Regions from separate parts of the Homo sapiens genome. Here region 2 is linked to region 1. A link means that fine-mapping ties the variant in region 1 to the expression of a gene that starts in the linked region. Tissue or cell type: whole blood. Region 1 holds a variant in brackets; the other region holds the start of a gene. All regions are shown on one strand. Distances are between the middles of the regions.

Evidence for each region. PIP is the estimated chance that this variant, and not a neighbour inherited with it, causes the effect.
Region 2: it holds the start of FAM81A, and the variant in region 1 is fine-mapped to the expression of FAM81A in whole blood (INTERVAL, PIP 0.96).

Annotation. Positions count from the first base shown.
Region 1 is chr15:59,397,577-59,406,834 of GRCh38, forward strand. It overlaps a transcript of FAM81A not described here and the pseudogene NSA2P4. Among named protein-coding and RNA genes, the nearest start is that of MYO1E, 29 kb to the left of the region's middle. RefSeq lists enhancers at 1,750-1,859, 2,000-2,339, 2,710-2,789 and a silencer at 4,274-4,568. The variant C/CTAGTTCATT (reference allele first, on the strand shown) is at 5,471.
Region 2 is chr15:59,432,618-59,443,521 of GRCh38, forward strand. FAM81A (family with sequence similarity 81 member A) reads left to right here and starts at 5,569. Exons shown (of 9, transcript NM_152450.3): 1 at 5,569-5,665. RefSeq lists a silencer at 5,267-5,796.

The DNA.
Region 1 (9,258 bases):
GTATAAAAATATAAAACACCATCATAAACAATATTTGACCTTGGAAAGGTTCTGGGGAAAAAAGTGAATTAATCAGCACAGATTCATTGGCAGAGTCTGTTCAAGGGTGTATCACCAACCTCAATAATGGTGCTAGGTGTGAGCCAATCCACCGGATACACTCACTCCTCTGATCCTACTGAAATTCATCTTGACCATTTGCTTCTTCAGCTAATGATAGAGACACAAATGGACTATTGGGATTTTCCAGATTGCTTTCAACATTCCAAATGCCAAACCATCCGAGTTTTTAAAATTACTTATGGTTTTCCAAATCCTACAACACAGGATGTGTTGACTAGGAGATACAATTTTTAAGATGTTTGTTGTACGTGCTTTTTTTTTGTCTTCCTGTTTTCTGCGGGTTTATTGGTGGTATCAACTGACTATTCCATCCAAGAGACAGAACTTGCACTGGAGGAGAAATGGGCACAATCCTAACCATAGCATCACCTAGCGACTATCAAGCCCGAGACCAGAAAGCAACATTTGAAGTGGTTTGACAGCATTGCCTTTGGATAACTGGCTTTCTGGTTCCTTACTGAACACTTGCAGATATGAGTTATGTTAGGTGAGGACATCTTTGGAGCCATCTGCATAAGAAGAAGAGTGTCAACTCTGGCAGGACAGACTTTTTTTCACTCAGGTAAGTAATTGGTAATGTAGGGTCTAAGTGTTTTCATAGGAATAAACACATGGGAGGAACACTGTGTAAATTTGGATTAGGTTTTTCTGCATGTAACCAAAATAACAGTGCCTTCCACAGGATGGGAGTTGACTTCCCTTTTACACAAATGAAAGCAAGAGGTAGACAGTGCAAAATACCTAATAGCTCCATAAAGTCATTAGAACATGAATCCAGGCCAGGTGTGGCAGCTCATGCCTGTAATCTCAGCACTTTGGGAGGCCAAGGCAGGTGGATCACTTGAGGCTACAAGTTCGAGACTAGCCTGACCAACATGGTGAAACCCAGTCTCTATCAAAAAAAGAAAATTATTGGGGATTGGTGGCACATGCCTGTAGTCCCAGCTATTCAGGAGGCTGAGGCAAGAGAATTGCTTGAACCTGGGAGGTGGAGGTTGCAGTGAGCCAGGATCACGTCACTGCACTCCAGCCTGGGCAACAGAGTGAGACTCTGTCTCAGAAAAAAAAAAAAAAAAAAAAAAAAAAAAAGGAAATGAATCCAGTCTCTTTCTAGTGCAAAACTTCACCATCCCTAGGGTGTGGTCTATGTCTTCCTAGTCCAAGCTAGTGACTAAAAAATCAGCTATCGGCCAGGTATGATGGCTCACGCCTGTAATCCCAGCACTTTGGGAGGCCAAGACAGGTGGATCACGAGGTCAGGAGATCGAGACCATCCTGGCTAACATGGTGAAACCCCGTCTCTACTAAAAATACAAAAAGTTATCCAGATGTGGTGGCGTGTGCCTGTAATCCCAGCTACTCGGTAGGCTGAGGCAGAAGAATCACTTGAACCTGGGAGGCGGAGGTTATGGTAAGACGAGATCACACCACTGCACTCCAGCTTGGGTGACAGAGTGAGACTCCATCTCAAAACAAAAACAAAAACAAAAAAGAAGAACAAAAAGAATCAGCCATCATATTCATATAGAGGAAGGGGAAGAAAGGCATGTCTTCTCCCTATAAAATCATATCCCAGAAGCTGGAAACATTTCCACTTTCACATTACTAGCCAGAGCTTAGCCAAATGGTCTCATCCAGCTGCAAAAGATATTGGACAATGTAGACTTTATACCAAGCACTTTATGCTCAGCCCAATATTAGGGGTTCTTGTACCAAGAAAAAAAGACAAGAGAATGGATGTGTAGACGATTAGCAGTCTCTGCCACAAACATTGAACCCAGCTGTAAGACATCAAAAAAGGCCTCCAGAAAGATATGGTATCTGAGCACTGAATAAAATACGCTGAAGAACCCATGCAGATGAAAGGGATGTACGAGAGGAGGAAGGGCAGGGTGTTTCTGGTGAGGGGGCAGCACATGTGAGGCCACAAGAATGAAGAAGTGTGCTGTGATGGGGGAACTGAAAGTTGCTCCTCTGGCTGATTGAAGATAGGAGGCAGGAGAATTCTCTCCCTATGCGAGGCGCTGGCCAGTCCTCATTCTCAGGTAATGTTCCCAGAGTTCTGGCTCTCCTCCTTTCCTCCTGCTGCAGCTGATTCTCTAAGTTTAGTGTGAGTGGCCAGCCACTCCCTCCAGGGCAGGAGGGGAAAGAGTGGATAGTATGCCATAGCCTTGTTAAGAAAGCCCCATACTTATTTTTCAGAACACATTTGAGTTTCTCCTTCTTCAACTAGACCAAAAAACAAAGTATCTTCAGTGAGTAACTTTCAGAGAGGCTCCAGGGAGGGTGGTGGGGTAAATGGAGAGTCCCCGTCCGAGTCTCTCTTCTGCTCCTCCACACCTAGGAGCTAACTTCCTGCCATTTTTATCGTAACTGTTACAGGTGAGGGATTTGTGAACTGGGAAACAGGCCAGAGGTTCACTCAGAGATTGCAAAGGCACCTCCAAGTCAGGTTGTCCAAGACTGACTCATGCTCTTGCCCCCCAATTCATTCCTCTTCAGTGTTCCTGTCTGGGGGAATGCGTCTGCACACGTCCCAATACCAGAGCGAGAAAGTCAGGAGTCAGCCCAAGCATGGACTCTCCCTCCCCGCCCACATCCAGCCACTCACGGGTCTGATAAATTTACCTCCTCAATAGCTTGCACTTCTGCTTACTCCTCTCCACGTCCACTGCACCCCGCACACTAGCCCAAGCTACTATCATCCTCTCCCGATCATAGCAGTGGTTGCAAGTCTGGTTGCCCCGCACCGGCTCAGACCCCCCTACCCCATGAATCACACTACAGCCAGTGTCATTATCTTCAGCATAAGGCTGATGATGATCCTCCTTCTCCACCTCTTGAAACCCTAGGGTGGCTAACTGCAGTCTACACAGCTCTAATCACTCAGGTTCACACCCCTCCTGCTTCATCAGGCGTCATTCCTTCCCCTGCTCCCTTCACTCCAGCCTCCTTGGCTGACTTTTGCCAATGCTCTGCCCTCCTTTCGGCCTTAGGTCTGTTCCAAGCTGCAATGCTCTTTTCTTCTCCCAGTGAATCCCAGTCTCTTTCTGTTGTCAGTGCCGGTTGCTTTCATGGGGGAAGTCTAAACTCCCAGTCTACTAAAAATCCTTGCACATTCCCTACTTTTCTTTCTCTTAATACACATGTTGGTTTATAATTTTACATTCACTGGTTGATTAGTGTTTCTATTGATGCATTTTTAGTAGGGTGATTCTTCCAGCTAAAGGGCTACAAAGGTTTCAAATTAATTCTGGAAACATTTTCTCTTTGCATATTTAAAGGGAAAGTGATCTTTTCTAACCTTTGCAGATAAGAGGAATGTTTGAAGTTAGAGTCCTAAAGCATTATTATTTTTATAATGATTTTGTATTTTTTTTCCATTTTAATGTTTGCAATTTAATAAATCTCTTGATGATTGCAGACATGTATGGCTGTTTGGTAGTATTCAGAAACATCACAGTAATGGCAGTTTTTTCAATTGGTGCGTAGTCCTCAATAATTATATATGAAATTGCTGTCGAACCAGTAAGACTGCATTTATGCATCCATCATTTTCAGGATTGTTGGTAACCTGGGCATATTTTCCCCAAATAACTGCCGCCTTGCATCACAAGGCCCAATTTGCTCACATTTACCTCCATGGCAGTACCTTTGGTAATAACACCCAAAGTTGTATACAGTGGGGACGACGGGTTCTTCTTTACACCAAATATTGGTAGGCAAAAGGTGACTTTCAGTTCAGGATATGTTACATGGGCTTTCTTGAAACGCAAGCCCATTGGCCTGATGAATCTTTCATACTTAGGTGGTATTCTTGTAAAGCCATCTTGAACAAAGCAGACATTAGTAACCACCCTCTTCCATGCCTTCTTCTTTCTCTTCCTTGTTCGAATAACTTTTAATACTTCTGTTTCTCCCTGGGCACATACTTTAGGCAGAGGGACTTCCCATTTTCCCGCCTTCTCTTTTCGTTTCTGTTTGATCATACTGGAAAGTACTTTAGCTCGAGATTGTCCCTCTCTGTCCAGCAGATAGGCAGGTACTGCTCCCTGTGGAGTCTTTTCAGCATTTTTTTTTTTTTTTGGTGTTTCTCTTTTCATGCATCTTGATAGTCTTTTTTATTTGTATTTTCTCAGCATGGCCCTGTTTATGGTAAGGCTTAGCCTTGAGACCAATCATTTTCTTTGCCTTCTTTGAACATTCATGAGCCTCTCGACTTTCTTTCTTTCTCTTTTTCTCATGGTAATCCAAACAGTATCCATGGTGTTTACAGTGTAATTCAATATATTTGTTCTGTGGCATGTTGACGCCGCAGAGCTGCCAGGAGCAGCCCCTGGGGTGCGAAAAACGCTCTCAATTTTCGGGTCTTAGAGACCCATGAGCTGACGCCGTGCAGGCCTGACAGGAGAGTGATTTTATATTAACTTTGCTATTGCTTTATACTGCTATAAAGTAATAAACTCAAATTTCTATCCCACGTGTTACTGATCAGCCGTGGATAATGTTAGGAGGATGCCCTAGTTTTGGGGGTGGCTATCTTAATATTCCTTAATATCCCTTAACTGTTTTGCAGATCCAGAACATTTCTGCCTTCAACTCCAGCAAGGATCTGAAGGTCCAGGACCTTAGGAAAGCTGCCTGCAGAGAGGTGGAGAGGTAACAGCATGTGGGACGGGGAGAGTCTGCTTGTATTCTTCTGCCTCCCACACCCCAACGTTTAGGAACAAGCCTCATGCCCATTATACTCACAACGAGTTACAGACTAGTGGCTCACAGGCCAACTTAGTCCCTTACATGTGTTTGGCTTGGCTAGAAGGATATTTTAAATTATTATTATTTAATTTTATTTTTATTTCGAGACAGCGTCTCACTCTGTCTTCCAGGTTGGAGGGCAGTGGCTTGATTTTGGCTCACTGCAACCTCTGCTTCCCGGGTTCAAGCGTTTCTCCTGCCTCAGCCTCCCAAGTAGCTGGGATTACAAGCATGTCCCAACAAGCCTGGATATTTTTTTGGGGGGTGGGGGGGATATTTAGTAGAGATGGGGTTTCACCATGTTAGCCAGGCTGGTCTCGAACTCCTGGCCTCAAGTGATCCACCTGCCTTGGCCTCCCAAAGTGCTGGGATTACAGCTGTGAGCCACCACGCCCGGCCTCTATTCCTTTTACAATATGCTTTAATAGCATTTCTAAATCATCTTCATAGGGGTCTTATATATATATTCTTTGTTAGGTAAAATTTGAGATATTATGATTGTTGTTACTACAGTGAACTGAGTCCTACCTGTTATTGCATTTTCTAGTGGGTTATTGCCGATGTAGAGGAACGCTACTGATTTATATAGGTT[C/CTAGTTCATT]TAGTTCATTTAGTTCATGGGTCTATAATTTCTCTGCCTGAGCCACTGTCTTTACCTCATGCTCCATCAGAGGTCTCTGATAGTTTCAGGGTGTCCAGAGAAATCCATTCATTTACCCATATCTTTACTGAATATTTATTGAGAACTTCGGTTATGAAGTGGGCTACCCCCCCATCCCACACCCCCACATTCATATGTTGAAGCCCTAACCCCCAATATGACTGTATTTGGAGATCCGGCATTTAAAGAGGAAATTAAGGTTAAATGAGACCATAAGATTGGAGTCCTAATTAGATAGAACTTGTGTTCTTAAAAGAAGAGAGAGACATCCGAGCTCCCCCAACTCCTAAGCATAGACAGAGAAAAGGCCACACAAGGACACAGTGAGAAGGTGGCTGTCTGCAAGCAGGGGAGAGGGGTCTCGTCAGAACCCAATCCCACTGGCACCTTGGTCTTGGACTTCCAGCCTCGAACTGGGAGAATATACATTTATGTTGCTTAAGACACCCTGACACTGTTATGGCAGCCGAAGCAGATGAGTACAGCCTCTCTATGCCCTAGTTCCTCTGGTTATTTTATGGAAGTGTTATCTCTGGCTAGAAAGCCTTACCTAGGGTCTTCTTTCAATTTAGGCAGTGGAGATCTGGTTAGAGTTGAAGAGATGTTTTAAAAAAACAAAGAGAATTAGCATTCATGGCACACAGGGAGGTAATTGATTTCTTTTCAGTTAAAATACTTTAAATTGCAAATTTCTTCCAAATCTTAATAAACATTTTTTTTCAGTGTTTTCAAGACTCAATATCAGAGAATTGATGGGGACCAAATTGTTTCTTTTCTTTTCTTTTTTTTTTTTTTGAGACAGAGTCTCACTCTGTCACCCAGGCTGGAGTGCAGTAGAGTGATCTCGGCTCACTGCAACCTCTGCCTCCTGGGTTCAAGCGATTCTCCTGCCTTAGCCTCTGAGTAGCTGGGACTACAGGCGTGCGCCACCATAGCTGGCTAGTTTTTGTATTTTTAGTAGAGACGGGGTTTCACCATGTTGGCCAGGATGGTCTCGATCTCTTGACCTCATGATTCGCCCGCCTCGGCCTCCCAAAAGTGCTGGGATTACAGGCCTGAACCACCATGCCCGGCCTGAATTGTTTCTAAAGGTAAACCTCTACAAACAAACCCATTGATTCTCAGGGCAAAAAAGGAGAGGGAGACACACCTATACACGAGGCCTAAGTGGGAAAGAGAAGATCCATCAGGAAGAGAAAATGGGAGGAGAGACCCATCTCCTCATTCCAGCAAGTCAGAGTCCATAGCCCATATTTCTTCCCACCTTAGACAAGGCCATGAGACTTTCTCAGGTAGAAAGGCTGTTCACTTTGGTGTGGAATCCTGTAGCAGTTTGGTGAGAAAGTTTCTATACATTCTTTGTTTTTTTTTAGAGACACAGTCTCGCTCTGTTGCCCAGGCTGGAGAGCAGTGGAGCGACCATAGCTCACTGTAGCCTCCAACTCCTGGGCTCAAGCCGTCCTCCTACCTCAGCCTCCTGATTGAGACGACACATATGCACCACTACACCCACCTCATTTTTGTAGTTTTTGTAGAGATGGAGTCTCACTATGTTGCTCAGGCTGGCCTCCAGCCCCTGGCCTCAAGTGGTCCTCCCACCTTGGCCTCCCAAAGTGCTGGAATTGTAGGCATTAGCCACCATGCCCAGCTCATATTCTTCACAACAGCTGGAATAACCTCAAGATCAGATCACTTGCTATACTGTTCAAAACTCTTCCAATGGCTTTTCAACACATCTGAAATGAAATCCATGTGTTTCTCATGGCCAGTAAAGCTAGTAGGTCTGGGCCCTAACCATCACCCTGAAATAATCTCCTACCACCCTGCTTCCATCTCACTCTGTCCCAGCTACACTGGCTTCTTTGTGCTCTTTGAACACACAGAGCTGACACCAAACCCAGGGCCTTTGCATGCTCTCTTCTGTCTGCCAAGAGTGCTCTTTCTTCCAAGCTTTGTTTCTTTTGCTCCCTCAAAGCCCTGCTAACATGTAACTTCCTCAGAGAGGTCTTCCCTGACCACTCAGTCTAAGCCATCTCGCCTCCTGCACATCCTTTCCTTGTTAGCAGTTAGGTTATAGAGTCATTTGATTATTTCTTTATGATCTGTCTTCCACTACAATATAAGGTCTGTGAGAGCAGGAATTTGGTAATGTATGTGGGATGAATGAATGAACAGGCCTGCCAAGAACAGAGTGGGAGGGGTTTGGGAGGGTACAAAGAATACAACCGTATGCCTCTTTCCGCTAAGAATTAGACCGGGCTCTGTGGCTCACACCTGGAATCCCAGCACTTTAGGAGGCTGAGGCGGGTGGATCTCTTAAGGTCAGGAGTTCGAGACCAGCCAGGACAACATGGCAAAACCCCGTCTGTACTAAAAAGATGAAAATTAGCTGAGCATGGTGGTGCATGCCTGTAATCCCAGCTACTTGGGAGGCTGATGGGGGAGGATCGCTTGAACCCTGGAGGCAGGGGCTGCAGTGAGCCGAGATCACGCCACTGCACACCAGCCTGGGCGACAGAGTGAGACTTCATCTCAAAAAAAAAGAATAATGATAATAATTGCTACTACTTCATCCTGTCCATCCCATGTCCCTAAAAACTTCAGCATAAGTGCACTCCACACACAAGGAGAGAACAAACCCTCTTACTGGCCTTGGGCCCATCCCTCTTTCTCCCACACTGCTACTTTTGAGTTATCTCATTTTGCTCCCAATAGTCAGCCTTGACTTTTCTGGGCTTACCTGGGCATCAGGGACCCATGTTGCACATTCAGTTGTCCCGATTATGTCTGCCTTAGAGCGTCTCCTAGGGCAGCCAGTCTGGAACAGTCAGTCACCTAGGGTCCTGGAGCTCCTGCAGTCTGCCACTCGCTCCTTCTGCCTGATAACAAATACTATTCCTTTTATCCTTGCAACTCGACCCAGAAAGAGGTGGCTGTCAATGTCCAAGGCCCCTGGAAACGAAGACTGGAAATGTGAAACCACTGGGCACAGGGGAATGGGTGGGTCTGAGAGTCTGAAAGACAGTGCTAGAGCATGTGCCTTCCAGATCATTCTCATTGAAAAATTCAGAATGACCTCCCCTCCCCAAGCCAAGAAAGGATAAACACTGACACCTGCCTACCTTCTCACATTCTAATTTCTAAGGTAAAATAAAATGCATTAAGAATCTGTAAGTTATCTCATTTAACTGGCACTCTGCTTTATGAGATACGCACTATCATCACCCACTTACAGATGAGGAGATTGAGGCTGGGGGATGTGAAATCATTTATTTCAGTTCACATGGTTTGCGAGCAGTGGAGTCAGGATCCTAAAGTAGATACTAACCAGTGCTATTTGGCATACCAATTTAAATCAGTTACCTACACTAACTTTAAAACAACATCAGCTTTATTAAGGCAAATTTATATATCATAAAGTTCACCCACTTTAAGTGTACAATTTGATAATTTTAGTAAGTTTGCAGAGTTGTGCAACCATCACCACAATCCAGTTTTAGAACATTTCCACTACCCCAAAATGTTTCCTCATGTCCATTTTCGGTTCATACCCACTCCTACCCCCAGCTCTAGGCAACCGCTGATCTACTTTCTGTCTCTATAAATTTGCTGTTTATAGAGAAATGAAATCATCCTGCACGATCTTTTACTACAAGCTGCATTTGTTTTGTGAAGACTGTTCAGCTCAGTTCTCAACATTCAGTTCAGAGGTGTGCACTGGCTTAGCA
Region 2 (10,904 bases), 36 kb after region 1:
GACCTTGGACAAGTTACATAATACCTCTAAGCCTAAGTTTATTCATAAGCTGTTGCAAAAAAGAAATAAAGTACTACAAGTAAGCATTTAGCACAGGGTCTGACATAAACATTGGCTATGATTGCAACAGGGCCAGGGCTGAGGGGAGGTGAGTGAGGCAAAATTTAAGGTGCGACATTTAAGGCAAACTCAATGATCAAGATAAATAGTATTTTAATGCAATATTTAAAAAATCAGGCCGGGCATGGTGGCTCACGCCTGTAATCCCAGCACTTTGGGAGGCTGAGGTGGGCAGATCACGAGGTCAGGAGATCGAGACCATCCTCCCTAACACGGTGAAACCCCGTCTCTATTAAAAAAAAAAAATACAAAAAATTAGCTGGGCATGGTGGTGGGTGCCTGTAGTCCCAGCTACTCGGGAGGCTGAGGCAGGAGAATGGTGTGAACTCGGGAGGTGGAATTTGCAGTGAGCCAAGATCGCGCCACTGCGCTCCAGCCTGGGCACAGAGCGAGACTCCGTCTCAAAAAAAAAAAAAAAAAAAAAAAAAATCAAAATTGGGCTGGGTGCAGTGACTCACGCCTGTAATCCCAGCACTTTGGGAGGCCGAGGTGGATGGATCATGAGGTCAGGCTATTTTAGGATTTCTGGCCACAAACTCTTTGTAGAAAGACTTCTTTATTTCAGATTTCACTCTTGAAAGTGTTATGTTGAGGGCTCACTTGTATGCTATATAAATACACCCTGAGGCTGAACTTTCCCTGTTATGTACAACTGCAATTATCTAAGTTAAGACGTAAACATTATTAAAAGGATCTTCTCAATATTTTGTGCTTTCTCTGCTGGTTGTACTTTAGGCATAACTACTTCAAAAACATTATTGCGAGATGGATTAGCCACCAATGAATTCATAAGCAAAACATAATATTTGAGAGAATGAGCCTATACATGAAGAAAAATTACTAGCAAAAACAACAGAGCCAATTGTAGTTTATTCAAAACGTATGAAAAATCTATAATTTCTATAAATAAAAGAGGAAAAAAGGAATTTTCTTAATTCTATTTTACTATTAGCAACAAAGAAACCGATAAAGAACAGCCATAAAGAGTGACGTATTGTGTTAATTGGTTATTAACCCAAGTTTTTAGTTGGTTATTCACAGAATAACGTCCCAAGGTCTGAACCCCACCTTTGTTCAATGTAAGATTTCTCTTATTCGGTGAAACATTTTATTTTTGAGACATAATACCTTTGGGACCTTTTGAGTCTCACTCTGTCACCCAGGCTGAAGTACAGTGGCGCGATCTAGGCTCACTACACCCTCTGCCTCCCAGGTTTGAAAAATTCTCGTGTCTCAGTGTCCCGAGTAGCTGGGATTACAGGCACCTGCCACCATGCCCGGCTAGCTTTTGCATTTTTAGTAGAGACGGGTTTCGCCATGTTGGCCAGGCTGGTCTTGAACTCCTAGCCTCAAGCTATCTGCCCATCTAGGCCTCCCAAAGTGCTGGGATTACAGGTGTGAGGCACCGTAACTGGCCCGATGAAACATTTTTGAAAAGGAAAATGGATATGGCAATAATGAAAGGAATGGTAGAATTTAGATTGAGTTACTCAGTGCAAAACGATGCATTGTGCTCTCCTTGTCTGCAGCCCTACAACTGTATATAAATATGCAGAGACTATTTTCCCTTATCTTAAAAACATCCACTGGCCACTACAGATCTCTATGGATATTATTTCTCACCTTCTTTACACTGCCGAACTTCTCTAAAGAGTGACCTACACCTTTCTTGCATTTCTACAGCATCCAGTCTTTTCTTAACCCACAGCAATCTGATAACTAAAAAACACTCCTGAGGGTCACCAGTGACTTTCTATTCACTAAATTTTCTTGGCTTTCTGCAGGACTTGTCCCCTGGAAACTTTCTGCCCTTGAGCCTTCTCATCTGTGTCTTCTCTGACACTGTCCTCACTCTTACATCTCTGGGTCTTCCTCATTGCTCCCTGTGGGAACCTTCTTTCTCCTGCTAGTTCCTACATATGACTGTTCCTTGTGGTCAAATTCTTTGGCACTCTATTATTGAGAATGAACAACGTGTAACACTCCTCCCAATGGATCTCGACAAACCACGGTTGAGAATTGCTGAGGACAAAACAAAGTGCTAACTCTTTATCCATCTGAAACTCACCACAGCCTTGGCCCAACTGCTTTCCAGCCTTCTTATAAACACCACGTTGACCTACACAAGCCCTTGACCTCTACCTACCTAGAGGAGCCTACTTACTATCCTTATAGATGTCGTGTGTATCTCATCTTCATGACTAATGGCAGTGCAGAGACAAAAGTAGAACCAGAGCTCAGCCGTGGAATAAATCACTTAAACAATTTCAGCCGGGCTTGGTGGCTTATGCCTGTAATCCCAGCACTTTGGGAGGCTGAGGCAGGTGGATCACGAGGTTAAGAGATGGAGGCCATCCTGGCCAACATGACAAGACCCCATCTCTACTAAAAATACAAAAATTAGCTGGGCGTGGTGGTGCATGTTTGTAGTCCCAGCTCCTCGGGAGGCTGAGGCGGGAGAATTGCTTGAACCCGGGAGGCAGAGGTTGCAGTGAGCCGAGATCACGCCACTGCACTCCAGCCTGGCGACAGAGCAAGACTCCGTCTCAAACAAACAAACAAGCAAACAAACAAAGCAAAACAAAAAAATTCCCACAGTGGACTGGGTGCAGTGGTTCACACCTGTAATCCCAGCACCTGGGGATGCCGAGGCCGGCGGATCACCTGAGGTCAGGAGTTCGAGACCAGCCTGGCCAACATGGCAAAACCCCCTCTCTACTAAAAATAAAAAAGTTAGCTGGGCATGGTGGCGTACGTCTGTAGTCCCAGCTACTCGGGAAGCTGAGACAGGAGAATCACCTGAACCCAGGAGGCAGAGGTTGCAGTGAGCCAAGATCGAGAGCCTCTGCATTCTAGCCTGGGTGACAGAGTGAGACTCTGTCTCAAAAGAAAGAAGAAAAATGAATTTCCATGGTGTCTAGCATAATATACTGAACAAATTATTTGTATTTAAATAACTGCTTTGTAAATAGTATTACAGCCATCAAGTATATAGAATTGTTCTCTTTGATAATTTTTTTGGTAATCCTTGCAGCATAAAATAATTTGTGATAAATCATGGCTTTTTAATTGAAGTAATGCAAGAAAATCTCCATCTCCTGTAATGAGTTACAATCAAAGTGATTCTGGAAAAAATGGATATTTCGTTGCAATTTAGCCTACAAAAATAGGGAAAGAGTTGGAAAGAAACTAGTGTAGGCTTAATCATTGTGCATTAAATTTTGTCCCCTTGGGATTCAAAACAAATCACTTAAGAAAAAAGATAAATAAGAAGTGGGAAGTCATGGGCCTGATTCAAGACCACTTTGAAAGCCCGGTTCTTACTGAGAAATTCATGTTTTGAAATAATTATTAATACAATTATTTGTCTTATTTGCTAACTGTTATGATTTTTAAAAAGGAAATGAAAGTCAGCCTAAATAGAAGGTGCCTACATATGGCAAGAGCCCCTCACCTTCCAGGTCCTCTCCTTCCCTACCTTTGAGAGTGAGGGAGTCTTGCAGCAAATGAAAAATCAAAGTTCAGTTTTGATGGCCAGAAGTAAGAAGGCACTTCCTCTGTTTTATAGGTGTTCCATTCTGAGGAATATTAGGATCTACTATCACTCTCCTAGGAAGCCAGGAAGGGGTGCCTTGAGGCTCTGGCACCTCAAGTAGTAGAGGGAGTAGGGTCAGTATTGGGGTGGGCGGGGAAAGGGTAGAGTAATAAGAAGAGGAAGAAACAAGACAGAGGGGACGTTATGTGTCCATCTGAGATGCTCTCCATATGCACTGAAAGGCACCCCGATGGAGACAGGCAAGAAATATTTTGAACCTTTTTCTAGACTCTTGGTGATGGACTCTAGGTTTGAATGGGTACTTTCTGCTAACACATGCACACCTTTCCAGATGTTGTGGCCAGTTACAGCCAGAAGGTCACTGGGAAGCAGAGTGACAGTGTCATCACCATGACATAGGATCCAATTCAATATGTATTTACCTAGTACATACCATGCACCAGGCAGTGGGAATCTAACCGAGAAAGGAAAGAATAATCATTGAGCTTTTGCAGCACTAAAGAGATGCTGTTATACCAGATCTACACATCACAAGACTCAAGGCCATTACTCTCCTGGTCACAACGGCAGTGTTAACATGTGTCTGTGATTATTTGATGAATGCTCGTCAGGCTCTAAGCTCTGTGGGATCAGAAAGTGATGTGTCTCTTTTTCATCTTCACCATTGTGTCTCAGGGCTAAGCATAGTTTCTAGCACTTGGCAGCCATCCAATAGATACTGTTGGCTGAATGAATGTTACAGATGCGTTAGCGCTTTGTGGAAGTTATTAGCCCGTTTTACTGGTGAGGAAACAGTCGCAGAATACCCACAAATATTTCAAAGATCACACACAAATAACAGTCCTTAATACTAATAGCCCCTAAATAATAATGCTGCCGGAGAGAGAATTCCAAAACCGCTCAGCCGAATCCACAGTTCGGGCTCTTCTACCATGTCGGGCTCCTTCCCCTGGGTTGGAAGGGCTCAGGCTGGGGCGGGGTGGGGGAGACAGACAGGAGCCCCTGTGCTGGGTAAGTACCAGTATCTGCGAAGGAGGCACGAACCAGATGAGGCAAAGGTCGTGTCCCCCGCAACTCCGCTGAAATCCTGCCCACCGAGAGGAAGCACAATTATGAGTGAATGGGCTTGTGCGTCCTGATGAGAATCCAAAATCGAGAGGAAGGTGGAAAGAGCCAGGACGCGCTGGGAGGGGATGAAGCTGACGGGAGAAGAAAGGGCTGGGAAGAGGAGGGGTGTTCGGGGTTCTTCTTCTCGTCGTGTCTGCTGCGATGAGACACGATCCTGGGTCCCAACTGCAGGTGTCAAGGCGATTCAGTAAATGACACATGGCAGCCCCGGAGGGTTCGTTCACCTGCACAGGTGGGGCGTCACCGTGGCCTAATCAAATAACTTCTCCCCAATTTGAGGTGGGGCGGGGGAGAGAACTATTTTTGTGGGAAAGCGGTTTAGTAAATAAGGTATATTGGGGCTCTAGAGAGAATTGCAGTGCCACCACCATGGCTATGATCTCCGTCAGGCACCATTTCAACACCTCTCCAAATCAACCATCCCTACAACAGGATTTATTTTCCAATGAGCGAAATCCCCGCCCGCCAACTCCAAGGCGCTTGGATGCGAGCTCTGTGGGAAACAGCAGCGACGAGCAGAGGCTATTTTGGGTGTGGGAACGAGGAGGGAGGAGGGGCGGCGCCGCCAGGCTGGGCGCGGGTGCGCGGGGAAAGCCTCCAGCTCGGGCTGCCACGGCAACCGCGTCCAGGCAACGCGCCCGGAAGCGGCTCCGGCGGCGCGCGGCGGCTCGCGCCCCCCGGGAGCCGCGAACCCGGCCGGGCCGCGCGCCGGGCCAGGCGGCAGGCGCGCGCTGATTGGACGGCGCTCCCCGCGGCGCGGGCCCGCAGCCGGGCGCCCTGCTCAGCCAGCGCCAGCGGCCGCCGCACCCAGCCGCGCCGGCGAGGACATGGGCAGCCGCGGCGCGCCCACCCCCCGCGCCGGTGAGTGCCGCGCTCTGGGAACCCCGGCCGGGCGGCCTCTGGGGCTGGGCGGCGGGAGCTCTCTGGGACGGCCGGTGACCTTGGGGCAGCCTCTCAGGAGATAGGCGTGGGGTAGAGAGAGCTGCGCGTGGCCCATGTGACATGCCGCGGGCGAGAGGGTTAACTGCATGTGACGCGAAGGGCTGAAGTTGGGCACAGAGCGCAACTGGCGTTGCATTTTCGCGGGGGCTGCATGCTAGCGAACCAACCGACGCCCGGAGGGACTGTTTGGGGGAGCTGGGGTGGTGCACGGATTGCCAGGGGTAAAGGCGAGTCAGCCGACCCACTACTCAGAGTGAGTGACCTTGGGTAGGTTAACCATCTGCTCTTCCGCCCCTTCGCTTTTTCTCATCTTTCAAACGAGAGGCTAGGGGGTCTTTGCAGTTCCAGAATGCTGTTGTGCCATCCTACTGCGAGCTGAGAAAGAGCCCTAAAGTACGGTTCTGCAGGTACCGGAGATGCAAAGCTTAACCATGTTTATTCTAGGAGGGGTTTCCATTAATTGGCTCCTAAAGTGGTAAGAAATGTTATCGTTGTCTGGAAGATTATGGAGCAAGCAGTCGGTGGTCCGGAGAATGGCTTCTTAAGATGCACAGGTTAAAACCTCTTTGGTGCCCTAAAGACATGAACAAAATCAGGATTAATGCTCCTAAGTTCTTCTTTCCTGTAGTTAATCTAATAGGAAACTTTGTATTTGAACAGGTAAAATCAAAACCCAATCGTGGCAGGCAGCAGCAAATTAAGTGAGTCATTTCTTCAATGTGCACGAGGTTTATGTGTGTGTGTGCGCGCGTGTGTGTGTGTGCGTGTGTGCGCGTGCGCTCTCGTCCTCAGCTCAAAGTCTGCGTACGGCAGTGTTGGAAATTATTTCATAGGAGTAACCAGAAATAATGCTAGAATGATTCGAATCCACAAAAGTGCAGCTCTCTCAGAAGCAAGGGCAAACATTTGCAACTTGCTTTTAAAATAAGAGGTTTGTAGAGTAAATATATTCTTTATTGAGAACCATCCCCAGATTTGCACATTGTATCTGCCTTCTGGGCCCTGTCACTGAATGCGCGTGTGTGTATGTGTGTGTGTGTGTGTTGGGGGGGGCGGGTTCCTTGGCACTTATAATATTTTTAGCGTTGACTGGTACTAAAAAGGACACTTAGGCCCCCTTCCATATCCACTGTCTATAAACTTCCCTCTTCCACGGAGGGGAATGGAGGACGTACCCTCTCACAGGTACCCCTGGTTGCCCCTTCTGACTTTCTACTTAAAGCTACCCTTGATTTTCATTCGAATCTGATTTCATCTGTATAAGAACGTGGGTTGGGAAGACACAGTTTCCAATGCTAATGAATAAGCTTCTGCAAGCTTGTTTACCTGAGGGCTTAATAACCTTTAATGTGTTACATGTTAGAAATCTGATAGCATACGGATAGAAAAATACTTAGTGTCCAGGAATTCAACCATGAAGCCCTACCAACCATTTAATGAGCCACACTACATGGTGCTTGGAAACGTTATTAGCGCATTATTCAGCCTCCTCTCTCTGCAGGCCACTAGGCTGTGTCACTCCGACCTGGCTTTAAATGTCTTGTTTCTTGTATCCTGCAGCCACACTCTTGCATTTTCATTTTTTATGTAGCTGAACCCACCTTCTCTCCCGAGCACCAGAGCCTGAGTGAACAACTTGCCGCAGAAGAGCCTTCTCTAGTGTCCTCCACCGTCTCACCAGAGTAGGGATGCTCTTCCGCTTCTCCTTAGTGCTGCCTCCAAACCAATGCACCATCACCAACCAAGTCTCCTCTCGGAAGGTAGTGCTATCTGCTTGTGCCCCTACCCTCCTTCTTATCTTCTGGTCCAGTGCTTCCCAAACCTGGGGGCTCCTCAGAATCACCTGGGACATTTTGAAAAACTTGGTCTTTAGACTCTCTCAGATATACCAAATTAGAATCATTGGGGGCTGGGGCAGGGTGGGGGAGTAAGACCTAAAAATCCCTACTTTAAAAACAAACCCCAAAAGGAGGAGCAGCAGGAGACGATGAAGAGAAGGAACAGAACTCTCTGGGCAATTCTGATGTACACCCAGGTACAGTGGGGATCTCTTCACTTGATGCCCCAAAAAAGGGATAAACAAACAAAAAACGTGAGCAGCCAGCTTCATTCTCTTCTCTGCTTTGTCTCTTGCCAGTGACTTTGGGTTTTGTGTTGAAGCTCTCTTAATTCTTTGACCTTGAAGTTCCTCAACATCTATCCCAGTAGCCTCAGTTTCCACTTTGCTTCAACTAACATCTTGGACTTGTTCAGTCTTGAACAAGACTAAACCTTTGAGATCTTGAACTCGGACTTCAGCCTACTTAGCTGATACTACCCACATACTGCTCTGGATTTTAACCATCGCTGAGGACCCTGGTCCCTTAAGCACTTGCTGTTCCAATCCTTCAGCCCCTCTGTGACTCTGTTTCTCCACTTGGGGCATGTAAGTTGCTGGCCATTTCCATTCTGTCTGGGATCCCAGAATCCTTTGTTTCAATGTGTTGGGCTTCTTATATTTCAGTCCTCAATCCAAAATCACCCCCGCTTGCCTGCTTATTCTTCTCCCAGCCTGCCACATTATCTAGGAGGAAGTCACAAAGACCTTTGGACAGGTTCCATTGAAAATTTACGTTGGCTCTAATTTCACCAGATAAATTCCCACTTTACCTTCCTCAAGGCCCCCAAGCATCTTTCTCTTCCTCTCTTTGTCCTTCTTTATTTCGTCTTTCTCAAAGGAAGAAAATGTCTACAAGTCCCTTCCCCAAGGTTAATCCACATGCAATCCACACTCTTCATTCTCTGGACTTGATTCCTTCCTTCTCACCTCTTTTGGGAACTGGCTGCATTTGTTATTCCTCTTCTCCAGTGTCTTTGGTCCTTCCCTACTCTGCCCCAACCCTTACTCCACCATATGGGTCATCCTTCCCATAAGAAACTCTGGTGGGGTCCTCGCTCTGTCCAGTAGAATTTTCTGCGGTGAGAAAAATATTTTATATCTGCACTGTTCCGTATGGTAGTCACTGCCCACATGTGGCTCTTAAGCACACGAAGTGTGGCTAGTATGACTGAGGAACCAAGTTTTCCATTTTAGTAAATTCTAAACTAACTTAAATCCAATTGAAGTAGTCACATAGGGCCAATGGCTATCGTATGGGGTAGCACTGTTTTTGACCCTGCTACTCTGTTGAACTGTCCTCAGGTTCTCTTCTTTGTCCACTCACCTATTCTGGTTTCACCCTCATCTTTCTGTTGAAACTGCTTCCTCAGAGGGCTCTGGCATAGGTGTCCTGGCTGCAGATCTGAGGCCTTTGCCCTGGCTTTCCCTTCCTTGGTCCCTGCCCTGCGTCTCCTGGCAGCAGTCAGCCCTTTGCGCCTCTGTATCTCCCTGTCTCCATGACACTGGTTGTCCAGGCCCACTCGAACCTCATTTGTTTCCTTTTTCTTCCTGGCATGTAGACACGGGGATGCTGTGAGATCCTGTCCTTGGTCTTTCCTTTCCTTTTCCTCCTCCCTTCCCCCTGCCCCAGCCTCACCTCTGAGCCCGCAGTAGTATTTAAAGAGCACTGGGCACTTTCCCCGCGCCTCACTGGGCGCCCTCGCCCACTTGTACTACTTCCTCTAATCCTCACTCCAACTCTGTGAGGCAGAGACTCTGATTACTCCCGTTATGTAGGTGCAGAAATTGAAATGGAGGGAGATTTGAATAACTTAAAGAAAACACTGCTTTCAAGGAGCAGACCTGGGAAAGGGACTCCACCAGTCTGACCTTAGAGCCCCACTTTTAACCCTGTTTACCCAGGGCCCCCAGGTACTTCAAATCTATATTTTGGGCCCTGAGCTGTTGCCCACATTTCACTCAGAATGTAATACTCAGAAGCCTGACTGCTTTGTCTCTACCTTGTCTTCCTGGCTTCTGTAATCATTTTTCCCCTTTTTAAACCTTTTACTTTGAATAATTCAAATTTATAGAAAAGTTGCAATAACTGGCCAGGTACAGTGGCTCATGCTTGTAATCCCAGCACTTTGGGAGGCCAAGGCGGGTGTATCACCTGAGGTCAGGAGTTCCAGACCAGCCTGGCTAACATATAGTGAAACCCCATCTCTACTAAAAAAATACAAAAATTAGCTGGGCATGGTGGTGAGCGCCTGTAATCCCAGCTACTCAGGAGGCTGAGGCAGGAGAATTGCTTGAACCCAGAAGGTGGAGGTTGCAGTGAGCTGAGATCGCGCCACTGCACTCCAGCCTGGGCGACAGAGCGAGACTCCGTCTCTCAAAAAAAAAAAAAAAAAAAAAAGAAAAGAAAAGAAAAAGAAAAGTCGCAATAATTAAAATAATTCCCAACATACCTTTCAACCAAATTCTCTAAATATTAATTTTTACCACACTTGTTTTACCTTTCTCGCTCTATCCTATTCTCTCATTCTCTCTCTGTGTGTCTGTGTATCTGTGTGTTTATTCACACACATATGTATGAACACACATATGTATACACACACACAAGTGCATATGTTGTCATTTTCCCTGAACCATTTTAGAGTGAGTTGTAGACATGATACACCTTTGTCCACCTAAATACTCGTGTATATTTCCTTTTAAAAAGGACATTTTCTTGTATAAGTGCCAAAATCAGAAAATTAGCATTAAGAGCTATTATCTAATCAACAGGCCTTATTCATGTATCATCTATTGACCTAATAATGTCCTTCATGGCAAAAGAGGAGAAAAAAAGATCTTTATTGTTTTATTTTGTTTTTGAAATGGAGTCTTGCTCGGTTGCCCAGGGCGGAACGCAATGGCACAATCTCGGCTCACTGCAGCCTCCGCCTCCCTGGTTCAAGCAATTCTCCTGCCTCAGCCTCCCGAGTAGCTGGGATTACAGGCACCCACCATCATGCCTGGCTAACTTTTGTAATTTTGTAGAGACAGTGTTTCACCACGTTGGCCAGGCTGGTCTTGAACTCCTGACCTCAGGTGATCTGCCTGCCTTGGCCTCCCAAAATGCTGGGATTATGGGTATGAGCCACTGCACCTGGCCAAAAAGATCTTTTAAAAAAAAGATGTTTTCTGGTCCAGGATCCAGTCCAGGATGTGTTACATTCCTTGTCATGCCTCTTTCATTTCCTCTAATCTGGGACCGTTTCCCAGTCATTCTGTCTCTCGTGAACCTTGACACGT